Regions from separate parts of the Homo sapiens genome. Here region 1 is linked to region 2. Evidence: fine-mapped expression QTL. A gene starts in region 2. The other region holds a variant in brackets. All regions are shown on one strand. Distances are from middle to middle.

The links. PIP is the estimated chance that this variant, and not a neighbour inherited with it, causes the effect. A credible set is the group of variants that fine-mapping cannot tell apart.
Region 1: its variant is the best candidate, but not a certain one, in a credible set for the expression of EFCAB14 in whole blood (TOPMed, PIP 0.80).

The regions. Positions count from the first base shown.
Region 1 is chr1:46,595,160-46,599,549 of GRCh38, reverse strand. The region is part of intron 1 of MKNK1 (MAPK interacting serine/threonine kinase 1); the gene reads left to right. Among named protein-coding and RNA genes, the nearest start is that of MKNK1, 6.9 kb to the left of the region's middle. The variant C/T (reference allele first, on the strand shown) is at 2,322.
Region 2 is chr1:46,717,026-46,721,415 of GRCh38, reverse strand. It overlaps EFCAB14 (EF-hand calcium binding domain 14), which reads left to right and starts at 2,302. Exons shown (of 11, transcript NM_014774.3): 1 at 2,302-3,513. The coding sequence starts at 3,329. RefSeq lists silencers at 2,078-2,127, 2,448-2,497.

The DNA.
Region 1 (4,390 bases), 120 kb after region 2:
GCCTAGTTTGGAAGCTGCATGGACTAGGTCTGCTTGATAGGTTTAATAGGTGATCATTTTGGCAGCACCCACAGTGCCATAAATCAGTGCATTGCCATCCTTAGCTAGTAGAATCTTAGAACCAGTTTACAGAAGCTGCAGGACCCTGGTATTTCAGGCATGGGTTCTGATGGGAGATTGACGTTACAAAAGGGTCTGTCGGGGGAGGCAGCCTGTTTGGCACATCCTGTCTCTTCATTTTCTCACCCTCAAATTCAACAAGAGTCTGTAAGTAGGACAGAGCACTAACTTGGAGTGCAGAGGCTGGCATTCAAGTCCTGCACCTGCTCATTATCATCTGAGAGTCCTCAGTCTGTTTCTTTCCTTTGTATTTGCTGTCAGATTATTCCCTCCTGCAGCCAGTTATGGTTCACAGAGTCGTTGGGTTGCTTTCCAGAGCCACAGCTGATCTGGGGAAGCCATATCAGAAGCGGGAATAACAGTTACTAGTTATTGGGTGCCTACTGTATGCCAGGCACTGATGCCATGAGCTCCATATACATTAGCTCACTTAATTCTCATGACAACTCTGTGATGTGGGTGTAATTGCCCCCATTTTATAGATGCTGATAATCAGAGGAGTATTTTGGTTCACTTCTGAGGCCTCAACTCTTGCTAATGTCCTGGCTTGGGACTGTATGAGGAAGAACTGAGAATATAAACAGGATTCAGAGAGACTAGAGTTTATATTCCAGCCTCTCATCCTTACAGAGAGACAGTAGTTAGGTATGTGGACTCTAGAGTCAGGCTATCTGGGTTTGAGTCCTGGCTCTGTCACTTGCTACCTGTGTGACTTGGGCAAGTTATTTAATCTTCCTGAGTTTCTGTTCCTTCATCTGTAAAATGAGAATACAAATATTACTTACCTCATGGGGTTGTTATGAGAATTGAGATACAACAGCACAGTGCCTGGCACACAGTAGGTGCTCAATGAATGTGAGCTTTAATAGTAATAATATTAATAAATATATGAATGCCCAGTTTGGTACTGTTTTTATAGAAAGTATATTTATTAGGGCCATTTTCCCTTCCCCCGCATTGTTACCTTCTCTTTCTTTCCATTGCCCTGTCAGGAACCTTTGAGATACTAGATTGTTCCAGCACATGGTTGCAATGCATAACATGGCAGAAAGTGCCTGTAGGAAATGGGTCAATAAAAATCAGTGGCTCGTTAGAAAATCTTACCTGACTTGTGTTTTCACCTCTCTCCACAGTAAACAGGAACAGAGCAGCACATATATTACTTTTTTCACAGCCTTCAACAAGAGTGCCAAGCAAGACTCCTCCAATTCACTTGCCAAAAGTACAATAACAGTATCTCTGGAAAAGTGGTGCCTAATTTGGTTCTTCTTTCTGTCCAGCTTAAACCCTTCAGGCCTTAACTTAAGCCATTTCTTCTTGTTCCATTTTCCATGAATATGGAAAAGTTTCTTCTGATTTTAAAGGGAGGATGAGATCAAGATTTTCTCATGAGAACCTTTTCTGTACTTAAAGCCAGAATCCAGTTAAACCTCATCTTCTCTTCTCCCGGCTAAACAGCCTTGGTCTCTTTAACCTCACTCTTAAAACCTGTTTTCCATTGCTTGGATCACATTGGTCATGCCTCTTTTCTTTCTCTTCGGTTTTTCTGCTTTGTGGCAGTGACCCAGACTGTACTCGGTCTTCTAATAAGAGTCCAGCTAAAACAGCTTAAGGGAAGAATAACTTCAGCTGTTTCCATCCATTCATTAACAATTATGAAGTGGTTGCCCCATACCAGAGCCTCTGCTAGGTGTAGGGGTCCCAGAGATGAAGGAGACATAGTCTCTACCCTGTCCCTGGCTAACAGTCTAGGGGAAGATGCGTAATAAAATGTTACAGGTAATTTAATTATGCACAAGTGTAGGAAGCTGGGAATTGGTTAGAGCAATCAGGTGGAAATACAGTCCCTTTTGACGAGACTGCAGGTTAAGACTCCCATAGAGGGTTGGTCTGGGACAAGTTGATGGAGGCCGTGAGTGACAGCACAGAAGCTTGGTTACTCCAGAGGCAGTGGACACCCATTAGAAGTTTTAGAGCAAGGAAGTAACAGGTCGAGATCTGGCTTTTTGGACCAAGGGTAGAGATGCCATAAACCTTAGCCTTACCTGTGCCTCACTGATGTTTTCTGTCTTGAAAGTAATGTGATGGATCTTTTGTTTGTATACATGGTGATTTTTTTTTTTTTTTTTGCTCTAAAACGTCTGTAGAAGGTCTAGTTCTTAAGCACTGAAGAAATTTAATTCCCAGTACAGCAAGAAATT[C/T]ATGAACAATTGAGAGAGAATTGGGTGCCTCGCCAGGCCCAGCCTACTTAAGACCCAGCTGCAGGCCGATGGATCTGTGTAGGTTTGGTCTGGCCATGGTCACCCTTCCCCACCCCAGCCCTATACCAGCAGGAGGTACAGGAATGAGGAGAGGGCTCCAGGGTCCATCTGGGTAGTTGGTAAAGAATGCTAAGAATCTTTAAGAACTGTGAGAGTCAGAAGTAATTTTTGAGGAGGAAAAAGGGACCAGAGGAATTTTAAATGGTGCCAGAAGGAATTAGGGCTAACCAGGCACTTAGAATCCTGTGACATGTATCTGAAAACCTCCACATTCTCTCTCTGCCTTTGTATTTGCTGTCAGTTTATTCCCTCCTGCGGCCAACTGTGGTTCACAGATTGGCTGGGTTGCTTTCCAGAGCTGCAGTTGATCTGGAGAAGCCATGTCAGAAGCTGGAATAAGAGTTACTATTGAGTGCCTACTGTATGCCAGATACTGGTGCCACGAGCTCTATATACATTAGCTCACTTAATTGCCATGACAACTCTGTGATCTAGGTGTTATTGCCCCATTTTATAGATGATGGTAGTAAAGCTCAGAGAGTTTGAATTTTATGTCCAAGGCTACCCGGCTGGTAGATGGTAGGGCCAGAACTGGAACCTAGGACCTAATGCCCAAAAGCCCTGTGCTTTCTACTTCCCCAGCCTAAGGTGGCTCCACGTGGCAAAATAACACAAAGCCCATAAGGAATTCTGAGGGGTTTTTTTTCTACTGTAGGCCAAGGGTTGGCAAAGTATGGCCCACAGGCCATATTTGACTCACTGCCTGTTTTAGTGTGGATGCAAACTAATGTACTTTTTACATTTTTATGTGGTTGGGGAGAAATCAAGAAAAGATCAATATTTTATGACACATGAAAATCTATGAAATTTAAATTTCAGTGTCCAAAAATAAAGTTTTATTGACATATAGCTACAATCATTGATTTACATATTGTCTACTGCTTTCTCTCTACAAATGCAAAATTGAGTCATAACAAAGATCATGTGACACACAAAGCTTAAAATATTTACCATCTGGCACTTTACAGAAAAAAAATTGCCAACTCCTACCATAGGTAACAAGAAGGGACCAGGTGGGGGTCTAAACCTATGACAAGACTAAAGACAGAATGGAAGCTCAAGGCCAGGCGTGGTGGCTCACGCCCATAATCCCAGCACTTTGGGAGGCTGAGACAGGCAAATCACGTGAGCTCAGGAGCTCAATACCAGCCTGGGCAACATGGTGAGACCCTGTGTCTACAAAAAATACAAAAATTAGGCGTGGTGGCTCGTGCCTGTAGTTTCAGCTACTTGGGAGGCTGAGGTGGGAGGATCACTTGAGCCTGGCAGGTGGAGGCTGCAGTGAGCCAAGATCATGCCACTGCACTCCAGCCTGGCTAATGGAGCCAGATCCTGTCGTTGGATGGTGTTCAAGGCTGTCCCTGGAAGTGTGGTAGTAGAAGTGAAGAAAGAGAGCATACCCTGAGTTTCCTTAGGCCCTGGAAACAGTTTTACTGGGTTTCAGATTTGTTTGGGAATAAAGAGCATAGTAGGAAGGACTGTCCAATGTGCTAACATCTTTATTGGATGTTAAAGAGATATTTCGTGTATTAAGTAATTCATTCAGATTCACTAGAGCCCATTTTTGCCAGATACTATGTTAGATGCTGGTAATGCAAAGATGAAAAAGGTAAGTGCTTGCCTTTGAGGAATAACTGGCAGGATGACGTGATCTGATAGGGAAGAAGAGAAGTCAGAGGAAGGAGGCAGTGGGTGGGGGTTGGGCACAAGTCCCACTTGGGGCATGTGGTTTGAGGTCATGGTGAAACACACCCAACTTCCAGTTAGAAAGCCTTTTTAGAAATTTTGGCTCAGAATTCAGAGTTAAACTGCATTTTCAGGGCTTTTCCACCGAGAAAAGGGGAAATGCATATTTATTTCATAGGGAAGTTGACAAAGCAACTTTGACTTGTATAGCTAGAGCCATGGTATTAAAATAACAGTGAACATAGAGAAAATGAAGTCATCAG
Region 2 (4,390 bases):
TGTATTGGGCAATGAAGCTCTAGAAACAAAAGGGGACAATACACCATGACTTGGGGCTTCAAAAACACTTTCACATTCATCTCATTGTCCTGTGAAATAGGTGTTTATCCCCATTTTACAGAGGAGAAAACTGAAGCTCAGAGAAACTAAACGGCTTCCATGCTGATGGAGCCAGGAAGAAGTAGAGACATGATTGAGTCCCAGGTTTCTTGATTTTGATTCCAAAAGTCCACTCATACCTCTTTGCAACACTGCCCACTTATGTAGTCATCACATATTTATTGGGTCATCGTTATTTAGGAGTACACTTCTGGGCTAGACACTTAAAAACAAATCAGATACAGGCCCAGGCTTTGCGAGAATCCTTGGACAAAAGCAGCGTAATTGCCACAGTAAGAATATGGGCATAAAAATTACTTTAAGTGACTTTCTTCCAAGTAGCTCAAAGCACTTTGCTTTAAATTCCATTTATATCTGATGACTTCCCAATTGATATTTCAGGCCCCAACCTGTGCCCAGAGAACTCTCAATGGGTATACCAAACAGCCTCCATTTGAATATTGAATTGGCTTGTCAAACTTGTCCCAAACTTGCTCTACCCCATCTCAATAAATAACAATTCCTTGCTTCCAGTGTTTCCACCGCCAAACCCTCTCTTCTCTTCACACCTTTCATCTAATCTATCAGCAAAAATTGTCAGCTCTGTCTTCAAGAAACATCCAGAATGCTCTCCATCTCTGCTACTGCCTCTCTAATCTATCAGCATCATCTCTAGCTGGACTGTAACAAACTGCTCTCCTGTGTTCCTCACTCTCCCCCCACTTTTTTCTACAAAGTAGCCAGAGTAATTTTTTCCTTTATTTTATTTTATTTTATTTATTTATTTATTTATTTATTTATTTATTTATTTATTTATTTATTTATTTTTGAGACGGAGTCTCGCTCTGTTGCCAGACTGAAGTGCAGTGGTGCAATCTCGGCTTGTTGCAACCTCCGCCTCCCGGTTTCAAGCCATTCTCTTGCCTCAGCCTCCCAAGTAGCTGGGATTACAAGCGCGCACCACCACGCCCAGGTAATTTTTGTATTTTTAATAGAGACAAGGTTTCACCATATTGGCCAGGATGGTCTCCATCTCCTGACCTTGTGATCCGCCCACCTCAGCCTCCCAAAATGCTGGGATTACAGGCGTGAGCCATCGCGCTGGCCCAGAGTGAATTTTTTTTTTTTTTTTTTTTTTTACGGAAAAGCCAGAGTATGCTACCTCTCAGCTTAAAGCCCCCAGTGCTTTCCCAAAGTCCTTTCAGTGATCCATAAGGCCCTAAAGCCCTGGCCTCTGATGCTTCTCTGACCTCATTTCCTATCACTCTGCTCCTTGCTCTTCTGGTCCAGCCACAACAGGTCTTCCTGGTCACTCCTTCCTGCAGCCACTGCACAGCTCATTCCCTCACCTCTCCTCCGATAAGCTGACTAAATGTTCCCTTTTCACAGAGGCACTCCCCATCACCTGACCGTGTTTCAATTTTCATCATAACACTTATCACCTCCTGACATTTAATATGTTTGCCTATTGTTGCTCTCCTCCCTCTAGAGTATAAATAAACTGCAGGAATAGATTGGCAGATAAGATACACGATGCTCAGTTAAACTTGCATTTCACATACACAATGAATAATTTTTTAGTGTGAGGATGTCCCAGATGTTGCATGGGATGTCTTAATGCTAAAAAATTGTTTGCTGTTTCTCTGAAATTCAAACTTTACTGGGTGTCCTACATTTTTATTTGCTAAATCTGGCAACACTATACAGGAAGACAAGGACCCTGGTTATTTTGTTCATGGCTGTATCCCCAGCGCTAGAACAGCTCCTGACACGTAGTAAGTAAGCTCTCAATAAATATTTATTGACTGAATGAATGTGTTAATTAATCTGAAACGCGCCTAAACTTTTAACAGCCTGTGTGAGAGTCAGAGAGGCGGAGCCTTCAGACTTGGTTAGTCCAGGGGGCGTGGGCGGCTGATGAACTTTCGAAGTAGGTCGAGCAGCCGGGCGCTTTGCCTGCCCCGCCCGCGCTCCGCAGGATGCAGGACTCCACCCGGCTCAGGTTCGCAGCAGGTCCCGGAAGCCCTCCTGGGGGCGGGGCCACCCTAATCGGCAGGTGGGACCCAGCCCCAGCCGGGGCAGGGCCCCTTTAACGCCCCACCTCTCCGCCACGACTTTCGCCCCGGCGTGACGTCACCCCAGCGGGCGACCAATGGGAGTGCGGCTTACTGGCAGGCGGCGCAGGCGGCCGCTGCCAAAGGGGAAGTGATCTGGGGCTGGAGCGATGGCCCGGGGCTGGAGCTCGCGGCCGCCGCCGCCGCAGCCGCCGCCACCAACGCCAACAACAACGTGTCGGGAGCAGCCGCGGCCGAAGCCGGAGCAGGGGCCGGAGTCGCGGCTGGAGTGGGGCCTGCGCGTGTGAGTGGCCGAGAGTTGCCCGTGCCGGAGACCTCAAACTCCGGGCGGGAGCGCTTTCGGTCGGCCGAGCCGCCGTCGCCCGCGGCACCGTGTCCCCAAGGCCCAGACAGCGGGGCGGGGGTCTATCAGGCGCGGGACTGGCTTCTCTCAGGCCGACCCTTCTAGCCGGGCTCCGGATCTTCCTCGGCCTCGGGCCCCCTTCACGTTCAGGACGGAGGCCGGAGAACGGTGATCATCACACACCCCAGCCGGCTTCCTGGCCAGGGCATTTTCTCTGCGGCCAAGCAGTGTTGGGATTGTAGCTGCTGGGAGCCCCCTCCTGCCGCCACCTCTCCTGCAAGGAAGGGACTGACGCGTTCCCACTTTCTTACTCTGCACCTCCCCACTCTCTTCCCATTCAAGAACGAGTTTCTCTTCCCTCTCCATTGGAAATCTTGCTCCGGAGGTCCGAAACACGTATTTTAAGCGTGCCCTTCCTCACCTCCTGGAGCACCCTTAGAAGTATTGCCTACTTATCCGGGCTGAGAATCCTTCATTTTTGACCTGGCTTTTTTTTCGCCCTTTGGGAGATAAAGGTCCCTCTCCACCCTCTACTAACACTCTGCACCCAAGGCCTTATCCTTTGGGGTCACCAGCTCCTTGGCCATTTCTATGTGATTTCCCCCACCCATCTGAGTTCCAGTTTCCTCTGGGCTCCAATCTCCAGTCCCTGGCGGATCTGGTCAGTCCCACCCCTAGGTGGGAGTGACCAGGGGGCTCTGGCCCAGGATTCCCAACCCTGGAAGGCAGCTCCAAGGCAGGAAGAGAATTGGGCATCGGGTACGAACCTGGCAGCTCAGGAGTCGGGGCTCCACTCACCCCACACAAAAAGATGAAAAAGCGCAAAGAGCTCAATGCATTGATTGGTTTGGCTGGGGACAGCCGGAGAAAGAAGCCCAAGAAAGGCCCAAGCAGTCACCGCCTGCTTCGCACTGAGCCTCCCGACTCAGACTCTGAGTCCAGCTCCGAAGAGGAAGAGGAATTCGGTGTGGTTGGAAATCGCTCTCGCTTTGCCAAGTGAGTAGTGGTGAAAGGTGGAATGGGAAGAAGGCATCTCCTTGCACTACCAAGGGGCCACATTGACAGGAAGGAGAAAGGAAGTCCTTAGGAAGAAAAAAGGGTGTAGGCCTTGGAAGTCAAAGAGGGAAAAACGGTTTTAGGGAGAAGGTAAGTTCAGATCCTGAATGAAGAATAAGTTAGAGATCTGTCTTTAGGTGTAGAAAGAAAAGCTCCAAATCTGAGGTGGAAATGTGGACTTGGAGAATGTGCCAAGAGCCCAGGGAGTCCTAAAGAAGCAAAGAATGGAGACAGAGGAGCAGAGAAGCTTTGGGGACTAGACTTTTTAAAACAGTGTAGAACAAAGGAGAAGCAGAGACTTTAAGACTGCAGATTATTTCGTTTTTGCACTCTTGATGAGTCTGAATATTGGTGGTGGGGAAATATGGTGAGAGATATACTGTAGGAAGTATGAGCCTTGAGAGTAGGTGGGGTCGGGGGGCAAAAGAAGAGGCATCATTTTCCCTAGCCATTCATAGGTGGAGAGACCACTAGGCAAATCAAGTAGTAAGATTTGAGGACATTGGGATTGGGGCTCAGGATGGGAAAGGACTAAAGGGAACTTCAAAAACGTCCTTTGACTCTCTCAGAGCACACTAAAAGAAAAGAGGATTCTGCTGAGGATGTAGAAACAATGGCTAGGCAGAAGGTCGGGGTGCTGACATTGAGTGGTTGGTTGGTTTAAAATGTCTTGTTTTGTTAAAGGAAGAGTTTGATTTCTAATGAGCTTTGTCAGCTAAGGCTGTTAAGGGCAATCCTGGGTTTGGGTTATGAAGATCAGTTGAAGTGTTACCTTCATCAGAAGGTACCTGGAGTAGTAACCCTACTAAGTTAGTTT